Regions from separate parts of the Homo sapiens genome. Here regions 2, 3 and 4 are each reported to be linked to region 1. Evidence: microRNA targets listed by miRTarBase, many of them from high-throughput screens and not tested one by one. Region 1 holds a microRNA gene; each other region holds the end of a gene's coding sequence.
Evidence for each region. The annotated mature microRNA hsa-miR-548at-3p reads CAAAACCGCAGUAACUUUUGU and lies in region 1 at 1,337-1,357, shown strand. An mRNA with a match to its seed (bases 2 to 7 or 8) in the 3' UTR can be bound and repressed. Matches are read on the target gene's strand: a 7mer-m8 pairs with bases 2 to 8, a 7mer-A1 pairs with bases 2 to 7 and ends in A, and an 8mer does both.

Region 2: miRTarBase lists RNF11 as a target of hsa-miR-548at-3p. Seed matches in the 3' UTR shown: 7mer-A1 at 831-837.
Region 3: the mRNA of IL6R is a reported target of hsa-miR-548at-3p. Seed matches in the 3' UTR shown: 8mer at 1,409-1,416, 7mer-A1 at 2,231-2,237 and 7mer-m8 at 2,600-2,606.
Region 4: the mRNA of CDC5L is a reported target of hsa-miR-548at-3p. Seed matches in the 3' UTR shown: 7mer-m8 at 757-763 and 7mer-A1 at 2,396-2,402.

What each region holds. Positions count from the first base shown.
Region 1 is chr17:42,493,474-42,496,473 of GRCh38, forward strand. It overlaps MIR548AT (microRNA 548at), which reads left to right and starts at 1,300; the gene lies at 1,300-1,357. It overlaps ATP6V0A1 (ATPase H+ transporting V0 subunit a1), which reads left to right. Exons shown (of 22, transcript NM_001130021.3): 12 at 861-1,000; 13 at 1,561-1,715; 14 at 2,153-2,243.
Region 2 is chr1:51,270,918-51,273,917 of GRCh38, forward strand. It overlaps RNF11 (ring finger protein 11), which reads left to right. Exons shown (of 3, transcript NM_014372.5): 3 at 234-2,530. The coding sequence ends at 405. Among named protein-coding and RNA genes, the nearest start is that of RNF11, 36 kb to the left of the region's middle.
Region 3 is chr1:154,464,893-154,468,101 of GRCh38, forward strand. It overlaps IL6R (interleukin 6 receptor), which reads left to right. Exons shown (of 10, transcript NM_000565.4): 10 at 242-3,209. The coding sequence ends at 488. Among named protein-coding and RNA genes, the nearest start is that of TDRD10, 36 kb to the right of the region's middle. RefSeq lists an enhancer at 73-574.
Region 4 is chr6:44,445,994-44,449,202 of GRCh38, forward strand. It overlaps CDC5L (cell division cycle 5 like), which reads left to right. Exons shown (of 16, transcript NM_001253.4): 16 at 614-3,209. The coding sequence ends at 718. Among named protein-coding and RNA genes, the nearest start is that of MIR4642, 12 kb to the left of the region's middle.

The DNA.
Region 1 (3,000 bases):
CTTCATTTCCACTGTTCTTTGTTTGAAATGTTATCAGAGCTGCCAGGCACAGTGCCTCATGCCTGTAATCTCGGATATTCAGGAGGCTGAGGTGGGAGGATTGCTCAAGGCCACAAGTTCAGGACTAGCTTGGGCAAAATAGTGAGATTCCATCTAAAAAAATATTATTTATCAGTAATTTTAAAACAAAATTAACTGGGCATGGTGGCACATACTTGTAGTTCCAACTGTTTGGGAGGCTGAGGTGGGAGGATAACTTGAGTCCAGGGGTTGCAGGCTGCAGTGAGCTGTGATGAAACCACTGCACTCCAGCCTGGGTGGCAGAGAAAGACCCCATCTCTCTTTTAAAAAAAGTTATCAGTAGCTCAAATTTCATTAGCTACTTTGTGAAGATGTGTTGATTCTGCCATGAAAGATTTTCTCTGAGAGTCCTATCTGTCTGGCAGCTGGGGAGTAAGTCACCTTATATTGATCTTAAGATTATGGAAGCCTGGGCACGGTGGCTCACGCCTGTAATGCCAGCACTTTGGGAGGCCGAGGCAGGTGGATCACTTGAGGTCAGAGTCGGAGACCAGCCTGGGCAACATGGTGAAACCCTGTCTCTACTAAAAATACAAAACTTAGCTAGGCATGGTGGTGGGCACCTGTAATCCCAGCTACTCAAGAGGCTGAGGCAGGAGAATCACTTGAACCTGGGAGATGGAGGTTGCAGTGAGCCAAGATTGAGACATTGCTGGCTGACAGAGCAAGACTCCATCTCAAAAAAAAAAAGGGGGGTGGGTATGGAAAAGAATGTAATATTTGTGGAATTGCTATGGTTTAATGTACTTTGTATTTTTCTTTTTTTGGTTTCTTCATAGCTCCGTATACTATTATCACGTTCCCTTTTCTATTTGCTGTGATGTTTGGAGACTTCGGTCATGGCATTTTAATGACCCTTTTTGCTGTGTGGATGGTACTGAGGGAGAGCCGGATCCTTTCCCAGAAGAATGAGAATGAGGTAATGTTTAAGTTACATCTGCATTGAACTGAAATTTTATAATTTCCCAAGCATTCATTATGAAAATTATGATCTGGAAGTCTTTTATCCATGAATTTATCAAAAGGAAGTAGAGAAGTTATGTTCATTTTAACACCAAAGACGACATGTGCAAGCTGGAAGTGGTAGTGTGTGCCTGTAGTCCCAGCTACTTGGAGGCTGAGGCAGGAGAATCACTTGAGCCCAGGAATTCGAGACCAGCATAGGCAACATAGTGAGACCCCATCTCTAAAAAAATAAAAATTATTTAGGTTTGGTGCAAAAGTTATTGCGGTTTTGGCTGCCAAAAGAAATGGCCAAAACCGCAGTAACTTTTGTGCCAACCTAATAAAAAAATAGAGGCCACATCCTGTGAAAGTGACTGTCTCATTAGCATTGTATTTTGGTTTTTACTTCAAGCTCTCTGAATCAGGATGGGGTAAAGTAGTGCTGGAGAAAGGGGCAGGTATATTCTGAATAACATTGTCACAATGTGAGCTGCAGTGAGTACATTCTCATTACTTCTTTCTTCTGGTTCCCAGATGTTTAGCACTGTGTTCAGTGGTCGATACATTATTTTATTGATGGGTGTGTTCTCCATGTACACTGGCCTCATCTACAATGATTGCTTTTCCAAGTCTCTTAATATCTTTGGGTCATCCTGGAGTGTACGGCCGATGTTTACTTATAATTGGACGTAAGTTGCAGAAGAAGCTAAAATTCAAAGCTTATTCCTTTCATGTGCAGCCCTGATTTTTAAGACAAGTGGTAAACTGACACTTCTTTAGGAAGTGGTGACAGTGTCTCCTCATTCATGCTCCACACTGTGAGTTGCTTTGTGATTTGTTCAGCAAGTATCCAGGAACTAAGATTAGAAATGATTTTTTTTTTTTTTGGAAACTAAAACCAGATTCCCCAGTTCCCTACTTGATTGTGTGTTTGTGTGTTTAATTTTTCTTTTTGTCATTTTGGATCCCTCAGTCTCAGCTGCTAGTCTCTCCTCTTTATTTTTCCCCTCCCATTTTATTGAAGAGACAAGATAGCTACAGTAATTTATTTTGGGGTCAGTTTCTGGACCCTTGTTGTTTCCCTCTCTTGTTCAAAAATAATGTGACTTTTTCCCTGTCATGGTAGTGAAGAGACGCTTCGGGGGAACCCTGTTCTACAGCTGAACCCAGCCCTCCCTGGAGTGTTTGGTGGACCATACCCTTTTGGCATTGATCCAGTAAGAGGACTTCCTTCCTATATGCTAACCTCAAATTTTTTAACACTAACCCTGAAGCAAGAGAATTAAAATGAAGATAAATAGTTATGTGGGCTTTCACTGGGCATGGTCGCTCATGCCTGTAATCCCAGCACTTTGGGAGGCCGAGGAGGTGGGATCACCTGAGGTCAGCATGGTGAAACCCTATCTCTACTAAAAATAAAATATTAGCCGGGCGTGGTGGCGCATGCCTGTAGTCCCAGCTACCCGGGAGACTGAGGCAGGAGAATCGCTTGAACCTGGGAGGCAGAGGTTGCAGTGAGCAAGCTGCACTCCAGCCTGTGTGACAGAGCAAGACTCCGTCTCAAAAAAAAAAAAAAAAAAAAGAAAGAAAGAAAGAAACAAACAAAAATAGTTATGTGGGTTTTCGTTGACATATTTTTGGGAAACCTTGATGTATGTATTCAGAGGACTTCTAAGCCATAAGAGACCCAAGTGCCTTGAGGAGCCACATACTTTTCCCTGCGCTGCTTATTTCTGAGGTGGTTAATAATATCGACTCTGGGAAGATTGATTTTTCAAGACTCCTTCCCATTTCTTAATTTATTTCTGCTTACTTAGTTTGGTTTTTTATTTTTAGCAGACATTTTAGCAAAGCAGAAATATATTTTTCCTGTGGATTTTAGACTTGCATTCTTATATTTACGAACTTACAAAAACTTATCCGAGAATTAATTTTTTTTTCAAATGCTTAGGCAAATTAAGTATGATCAAGTCT
Region 2 (3,000 bases), not on the chromosome of region 1:
TTGCTCTGTTGATTGCTCCTAAGTCCTGCAAATTCTCAGGGGATTGAAATAAGAGACTGTGGACAGATCAACATTAGGAAAAAATTCAGTTTGCATGCTTTGGCAATAAGATGACAGGCAAAGCATTCTGATGTGTTACTCAGATTAACACTGTCTTTAATGGGATTTAAAGAGTTTTCTGAATAGGACACTTCTGAAAATGCCTTCTGATTTCTCTCCATTGCTCTCAACAGGTGTGTGATCTGTATGATGGACTTTGTTTATGGGGACCCAATTCGATTTCTGCCGTGCATGCACATCTATCACCTGGACTGTATAGATGACTGGTTGATGAGATCCTTCACGTGCCCCTCCTGCATGGAGCCAGTTGATGCAGCACTGCTTTCATCCTATGAGACTAATTGAGCCAGGGTCTCTTATCTGACTTCAAGTGAACCACCATTTTGGTGGTTTTGATCTTTTGTCACTGAGCCCAAAGAGCCAGGGATTAGGAATTAAGATCGTGCACAAAAGTTTCCTTAAAATTCCTGGATGGCTGCAGATGTTGGGGGAAAAAGTACGTGATATTTTAGAAACTTAGTGGGAAAAGTAGGATGGTATTTTTATGTAAAGCCTTGACCCAATGTTTAAAAATATAATTGTATTTAGATCTTGTTATTGCTCCAGTACATAGGAATTGTGTAAAGTGTTAACAGCAGCTGTATTTGTTTAAATTGTGTGTATTGAAGATTAGGAAAAAGATAGTAGTTATTTTTCCTAAATGAAATAACTTTCTTCTCTTCCCCTTCCCCACCCGAATTCTTTTCTGAAGTTGCTGGCATTTGGGTCAAGGTTTTATTAAAAGCTACATTTTATAACACTGGCACACACAAAAAAGTAGTTTTAAGCTTGTTTGCACAGTTCTTTTTTTCCATTGGAAATGGAATTCATTGCCTTAGGTCTTTTTAAATAGTGTATTATTATCGTTGGGGCTGGCTCTATGCTTGAAAACCAGTTTATTTATAACCTGTTATAAGTGCTATATTCTGTTTGCAGTTAGGAAATGCAGAATTCAAAGTGATCTCCTAGCTTGTAAGCAAACTGAGATGCACTATCCCTTTTCTATAAAAAATAAGTTAATGTGTCAAGAAACCAACTCTATTAAGGTGGGGTTTAATATTACCCTTTCCTATGTGTTTTATCTAATTATTTTGGTTGTTAATATGGTGATAATGGAAAGTCAAGTTAAATTTTAAATATTAAGAATTCTGATTTATTGAGATTGAATTATGCCACCACGTTTATGTAAAAATGAAGGTGGCACCGTGGTGAGACCTAATGAGAAATAGTTACTCAGTTGTAAAAATTTTGATTTATTCTCTTTCTTCTGACCTCCTTGCCTCTTGTCTTGAACCATAGCAAAAGGATACTGCATCTCTCATTACTGTAGTGCTGAGGTTATTGAAGTTATACAAAACACATCTCAGTCTCTGTTTCTTGGAAAGGTATCTATTACATCCTGCTAGCTGACTGACAAAACTAAGCAGGGAGAATAAAGATAATTGTATTTTATGTTTTGCACACAAACGCAGAATTTGTATAACCATATGACTTCATAGTTGTGATCTCAAAAAAGAAGGAATTTCTCCTTTGTTTCTTGCAGTTAATGTAAGAATACTTTAAATCTCTAAGCTTCTGAAGTGTTAGAGGTAGAGATGGTCTAGTAAAGATGTAGTAGTAATGTTTTATCCATTTAGCATGTGTTTATTTTTTCATATGTACTCAAAGGTGACTTATTGGTTCACCTCAGTGATATTACAGCTAAAAAAATCATTCATTAGCAAAAGGAAAAGTGGTCTCAACCTAACATCAGAAGTGTTTCTTATTATTATTTTATATTGAGTTGAATATTGAACTCTAACAGTTTTCTACATACAAAACACAGTGTCATGAAGGTTATTCATAATTGCATTATAGAGGAATGTAGTATGTCATAAGTACTTTGTAAAGATTTGACATTCAACTGTAGTATCCATATGTTGCTTAAATTTCCTTATGAGCCCCATGATGGAAAGACTTAAAGATGAATTTGAGAAAAATTGAAAGAAATTAGATTATCAGGTTCTGTTAAATTGTTACATGTATCTTGCTTAAATTTCTGTTTATTAATTTATATCCACCCAAGTACATAAAGCAAATTTGGAGGAAACAACTGAAGTTGTGCAATATTTTCTGATAATTGCTTTTTTTATTCTTGTGTTTTCTACTTAAACATAATGTCTGTGTCATCAAGTATTATAGTCAGACTTTTCTTTTTTTCTAGATTGTTAAAATTGGCAAATGAACTTTTTTAAAAATCATCTTCCATGTTGCAGTTAGTCTTTCTTTTCATTACAAGTCTTTCACAGAAGTTTGGTGGTAATATTGAAAGAACTAGCATTGGGCAGAATGTGTCTTTTTTAGGCACTTTATATTCTCAACATACAATGTTAAGAACCATCAATTTTGACTTTTACTAAGTTGTTAAATAAAGTTATAATACAGCTGTGAAGGGCTAAAGTTAGAGTTGATTACATAAGTAAGTATTCCCCATATAATCTTTTAAAAAGTTGTGTATGATTATTTTAAAATCTCTCTCTCTATATATACCTGTGGGAAGTATTTTTTATTGTTTGGCATTTAATATCATTTAATCATATACTTAGGCTTGATAGCACCAAAGTTTCTAAAACCAAACAATAGCTATAATCTCTTGATTTAGATATGGGCAAGATATGTCCAAGCTTGGCTGTGGGATTTGAAATTTCTAAAAAGCCTAACCAGGAAGAAACAAAAGAATCTTATCCTTTTGAGTGTAAAACCTAACAAGTTGAAATACTTTCAGATATTTGTAGTTTACCTAACACAAACTTAAAAAATTCTGTGAGTTTCTTGATAGGGAATCTCCTCAGTCGGTACTAGAAGACTCGCCCCCTGCTATTGGTGTTTATCATGTGATATAAAACAGTATGATTTCATGCA
Region 3 (3,209 bases), not on the chromosome of region 1:
GAGGCTGCTGTGAGCTGAGATCACGCCATAGCACTCCAGCCTGGGTAACAGAGCAAGATCCTGTCTCAAAACAAACAAATGAACAAAAAACAAAAAGACAGCTGATAGTTATTGCTCCTTTGAGCCGAAACCTGGGCGCGCCAGGCCACCAGGGCAGCCAGCTGTTGGTGTTTTCCACTGTGGGCTTGTCACAGGGGGAGCTAAAAATCTGTGTGGTTTGTCTTTGTGTGTTTGTGTGAAGGTTCAAGAAGACGTGGAAGCTGCGGGCTCTGAAGGAAGGCAAGACAAGCATGCATCCGCCGTACTCTTTGGGGCAGCTGGTCCCGGAGAGGCCTCGACCCACCCCAGTGCTTGTTCCTCTCATCTCCCCACCGGTGTCCCCCAGCAGCCTGGGGTCTGACAATACCTCGAGCCACAACCGACCAGATGCCAGGGACCCACGGAGCCCTTATGACATCAGCAATACAGACTACTTCTTCCCCAGATAGCTGGCTGGGTGGCACCAGCAGCCTGGACCCTGTGGATGATAAAACACAAACGGGCTCAGCAAAAGATGCTTCTCACTGCCATGCCAGCTTATCTCAGGGGTGTGCGGCCTTTGGCTTCACGGAAGAGCCTTGCGGAAGGTTCTACGCCAGGGGAAAATCAGCCTGCTCCAGCTGTTCAGCTGGTTGAGGTTTCAAACCTCCCTTTCCAAATGCCCAGCTTAAAGGGGCTAGAGTGAACTTGGGCCACTGTGAAGAGAACCATATCAAGACTCTTTGGACACTCACACGGACACTCAAAAGCTGGGCAGGTTGGTGGGGGCCTCGGTGTGGAGAAGCGGCTGGCAGCCCACCCCTCAACACCTCTGCACAAGCTGCACCCTCAGGCAGGTGGGATGGATTTCCAGCCAAAGCCTCCTCCAGCCGCCATGCTCCTGGCCCACTGCATCGTTTCATCTTCCAACTCAAACTCTTAAAACCCAAGTGCCTTAGCAAATTCTGTTTTTCTAGGCCTGGGGACGGCTTTTACTTAAACCGCCAAGGCTGGGGGAAGAAGCTCTCTCCTCCCTTTCTTCCCTACAGTTGAAAAACAGCTGAGGGTGAGTGGGTGAATAATACAGTATCTCAGGGCCTGGTCGTTTTCAACAGAATTATAATTAGTTCCTCATTAGCATTTTGCTAAATGTGAATGATGATCCTAGGCATTTGCTGAATACAGAGGCAACTGCATTGGCTTTGGGTTGCAGGACCTCAGGTGAGAAGCAGAGGAAGGAGAGGAGAGGGGCACAGGGTCTCTACCATCCCCTGTAGAGTGGGAGCTGAGTGGGGGATCACAGCCTCTGAAAACCAATGTTCTCTCTTCTCCACCTCCCACAAAGGAGAGCTAGCAGCAGGGAGGGCTTCTGCCATTTCTGAGATCAAAACGGTTTTACTGCAGCTTTGTTTGTTGTCAGCTGAACCTGGGTAACTAGGGAAGATAATATTAAGGAAGACAATGTGAAAAGAAAAATGAGCCTGGCAAGAATGTGTTTAAACTTGGTTTTTAAAAAACTGCTGACTGTTTTCTCTTGAGAGGGTGGAATATCCAATATTCGCTGTGTCAGCATAGAAGTAACTTACTTAGGTGTGGGGGAAGCACCATAACTTTGTTTAGCCCAAAACCAAGTCAAGTGAAAAAGGAGGAAGAGAAAAAATATTTTCCTGCCAGGCATGGTGGCCCACGCACTTCGGGAGGTCGAGGCAGGAGGATCACTTGAGTCCAGAAGTTTGAGATCAGCCTGGGCAATGTGATAAAACCCCATCTCTACAAAAAGCATAAAAATTAGCCAAGTGTGGTAGAGTGTGCCTGAAGTCCCAGATACTTGGGGGGCTGAGGTGGGAGGATCTCTTGAGCCTGGGAGGTCAAGGCTGCAGTGAGCCGAGATTGCACCACTGCACTCCAGCCTGGGTGACAGAGCAAGTGAGACCCTGTCTCAAAAAAAGAAAAAGAAAAAGAAAAAATATTTTCCCTATTAGAGAAGAGATTGTGGTTTCATTCTGTATTTTGTTTTTGTCTTAAAAAGTGGAAAAATAGCCTGCCTCTTCTCTACTCTAGGGAAAAACCAGCGTGTGACTACTCCCCCAGGTGGTTATGGAGAGGGTGTCCGGTCCCTGTCCCAGTGCCGAGAAGGAAGCCTCCCACGACTGCCCGGCAGGGTCCTAGAAATTCCCCACCCTGAAAGCCCTGAGCTTTCTGCTATCAAAGAGGTTTTAAAAAAATCCCATTTAAAAAAAATCCCTTACCTCGGTGCCTTCCTCTTTTTATTTAGTTCCTTGAGTTGATTCAGCTCTGCAAGAATTGAAGCAGGACTAAATGTCTAGTTGTAACACCATGATTAACCACTTCAGCTGACTTTTCTGTCCGAGCTTTGAAAATTCAGTGGTGTTAGTGGTTACCCAGTTAGCTCTCAAGTTATCAGGGTATTCCAGAGTGGGGATATGATTTAAATCAGCCGTGTAACCATGGACCCAATATTTACCAGACCACAAAACTTTTCTAATACTCTACCCTCTTAGAAAAACCACCACCATCACCAGACAGGTGCGAAAGGATGAAAGTGACCATGTTTTGTTTACGGTTTTCCAGGTTTAAGCTGTTACTGTCTTCAGTAAGCCGTGATTTTCATTGCTGGGCTTGTCTGTAGATTTTAGACCCTATTGCTGCTTGAGGCAACTCATCTTAGGTTGGCAAAAAGGCAGGATGGCCGGGCGCGGTGGCTCACGCCTGTAATCCTAGCACTTTGGGAGGCCAAGGTGGGAGGATTGCTTGAGCTCAGGAGTTTGAGACCAACCTGGGTAACATAGTGAGACACCATCTCTATTATGAACAATAACAGTTAAGAAAAAAAAAGGCAGGCAGGCGGTTATGGTGGTTCCCTCCCATCCCACCACATAAAGTTTCTGAGACTTGAGAACAGCAAAATGCTGTTAAAGGGAAATATTAAGAATGAGAATCTGCAGTAAGGGTGATTCTGTGCCCACAGTTCTTCAATTCTTTATACCGTTTTACCCACATGTGGTGTTACCAAAGCCGGGCAGAACCATGCTAGCGGAAGATGTGAAATCCAGATAGCTCATTATTGCCAAGAGCTAGGCAGCTTTGATCTCCAAATTGTTATTGCTTTCATTTTTATTGTAATGGAATTGCTTTGTTTTGTTTTTTTGTTTTTGTATTGAAGAGGGTTG
Region 4 (3,209 bases), not on the chromosome of region 1:
CCTAAAGTGTTTGACTTTCTAATCTAGAATTGCCTCTGTGTAGATGGATAGACCAGGCAAGTTGTAGATACAAAGGCCTTCCCTTACTCATTTTCTGTTTCCAATATGTAGATACACTGTGAAATGGAATACTTAGCCCTTGTGATTTGTCCCCTTGAAACTTAATTGCATCCCATTCATGTAGCTCAGTGAGGGGAAACTAAACCAGTATCTTTTTGTTTTATACCTTATGTTGCTGGGAACATAGCTAGTCCTTCCAAACCATCAAATTCCTATGACCAGGTTTGGATTGAATTTATCTCCCAAATGTGCATAATAGCTCCTGTCCAGCTAAAGGGCAGTCAGGGCTTCTTGAAGTGCATTTGTGGGTATTGATAAGACAGTAGTGGTTTGTTTATTTGAAGTAGCAGCAGGATTTCATATGACCAAATCAAAGAATGGCTGTGATACTGGTTTTATAGCAAAAGTATTTGATATGTTTGTTTCTCTTTGAGAAATATTTAACTCTTAAGAATCATGATTTAACTCAGCTGGTTTTTAAGATAATAAAGTACTGTAGATTTTTTTCAGTATAGTTACATCTAAAATAATTACTTAATTTTTTTTCTTTAAGTGTCTAAAAGAAGACGTTCAGCGACAACAAGAAAGAGAAAAGGAACTTCAACATAGATATGCTGATTTGCTGCTGGAGAAAGAGACTTTAAAGTCAAAATTCTGAAGTACAGTTTATATTCTGTCACAGGATTAATTAATTGCCGGTTTTCATACTCTAGAAGGCTGAAACTGATGTTTATCTTCATTGACAAATTTACCCACCATCTGTGGTTTTTCAGTTGTTTATTTTAAATGATATCGATCTTACACATTCTGTGTATAAAGACCTTAACTCCACAGGACGGACATTTTAGAGTTTAAATTATTAAGGCTATCATTCTTTTAGTAATGTCATATTTGCAAACTTTTTTAGTTTTGGCCTTTAATTTAAAAAGCCTAATTTTAAAGTGCTGCCTGTGAGTAACTCTTGAATAAAAACAAAATATAAAAAATTGAGAATGTAGCCTTTTGTTTGAAGTAATTAGATACTTAAGAGTGCCTGCAAACCAGCAGCTATGTACTCTGTGTCATATTTAATGAGTAACTCTTGGGTAATCAAAATGGTGATGCAGTATCTTAAACACTTAAGAGGCAGTTCTTTGTGGCTTTGTTAGTTTCAGCAAAGAGTGGTCATTTCTGTATACACTGACAAGTTAGATTAACTTTTTAGTACCTCAAATTTTTTTTTTGTTAATATCACTTTAAAGAAGGTCTCTTGTCTGCCAGCTACTTAAATAATTTATGGGTCAGGGCTTAAAAGATTTAACTTCCTTGCCCCATTATTTTCTTATAAGTATTTTTTGACAAAGGCATTTTAAAAGTTAATTTCAAGAAGGCCATCAAACTTAAAGCTCTATGTTTAGCCTAAGAAGTCAGTTACATCAGTGTAGAATTTGGGGAATGGATAGAGGTGGAGATATTTAATTTTATATAATTCATATAAATTGATTTAGTTACAGTATCAGTTGGCTACAAGCTCATTATAGACTAGCAATGTTTTGACATCACCAAAAACGTTTGCCCAGTCTTAGAATACTAGGGACTATAGGAAGGGAAGGGATTCATTCATTCATTCGATATTGAATGTATACCCTGTGCCAGAGTCTTAGAGAGAGAACAACAAACAAAATAGGCCTAGTTCTTGTTTAGTAGAGCTTATAGTCTTTTGAGAATGACAGACAATTAAAATCCAAATGTTTATTTGGTGATTCTTATGTGTCAGACACTTAAGTGTTGGGAGATAAGCAGTTATTAAGACAGAGTTCTTGCTCTCATGGAGGTGACATTAGTGGGGAGGAGATACTAAGTATGTCCAGGGAAAGTATCAGACCATGAGTTTTAGATTCTGTGGAGGAAATTAAAGTAGGGTGATTATGAGATAGTGAATGAGTGGCTATTTTAGACTGGACGATCAAAGAGACCTCTTGGAAGGCAGCTATGCTCACCACTATACCACTGCACTGTGCCGCACCGTACCACTATAAGCTGCACGGCCAAAGAGACCTCTTAAAGAAGTAACATTTAAGATAACATGTGATTGACATTTTAGAATGGGCTATCCTTGTGAGATTCAAGGAAAGAACATCCTAGGTGGAGTGAATAGCAAACATAAAGCCTCTTTTGTATGTTTGAGGAACAAAAAGGACAATGCAGCTAGAGTGTCAAGAATGGCATTTCTGTATATAAGACCTCGTTGTATAGAGCCACATAAATAAGGCTATAATAAGGAATTTGGATCTTACTTTAAATATGATAAGAATCGATGAGAAGATCTAAGCAAAGGAATGACATGATCAGATTTGGTTTTAGAAACATCACTATCTCCTTAGTGTGTAAAATCTCACCAGGCTGGAGATAGGGAAGCCAGTCCAATTAGGAGCCTGATGCAGTGATCCAGACAAAAAAATAATAGTGATTCTAACTAGAGTCCAGGTAATAGTAGTGGAGATATGTGGAGAGACATGATAGGTATATACTTAATAGTCTTATCAGACGATAAATTGATATTTTCCTGGTGTGTAGTCACTTAATTCAAATACTTTTTTCAGTAAGTTCTGGGTTTTCTAGGAAAAACTTCAGTATCATCAGTGAATAATGATAGTGTTTCTTCTGATAGTTTTATTTCACTTTTATTGCATGTTTTGTTATCTGAAATGTTTAGGACAATGTTAACAATAATGATGTTAGACATTTTTTTTTCTTATTTTAATGGGAATGTCCATAGTTTTAAGTTTGCTGTTGGGAGTTAGATAGTCTTTATCTGAAAGACAGTGTCTCTCTTTTAGTTTTTAAAGAGTTTGAATTAGAAATGGCTCTGGAACTTTAAACAGTATACCATTTGGGCATCTATTAAAGCATTCATATAATTGTTCTCATTTGATGTTTTGATGAGGTATATTAATAGATTTTCCCACATTAAATCATCTTTGCACTCCTGGAATCAGGTAGATTAATTTTTAAAAGAAATTTTAAAGGATTTATAGTTTATTTGCACTTTTTGTAGACTTGAATTATATGGATTTAAAAGTTGATCTAATATTAATAAAGGCTCACTTTGTTTTCAAAATTTGAAGTAATTCACATACTTATAGCCTAAAAAAATCGGCAGGAATTAC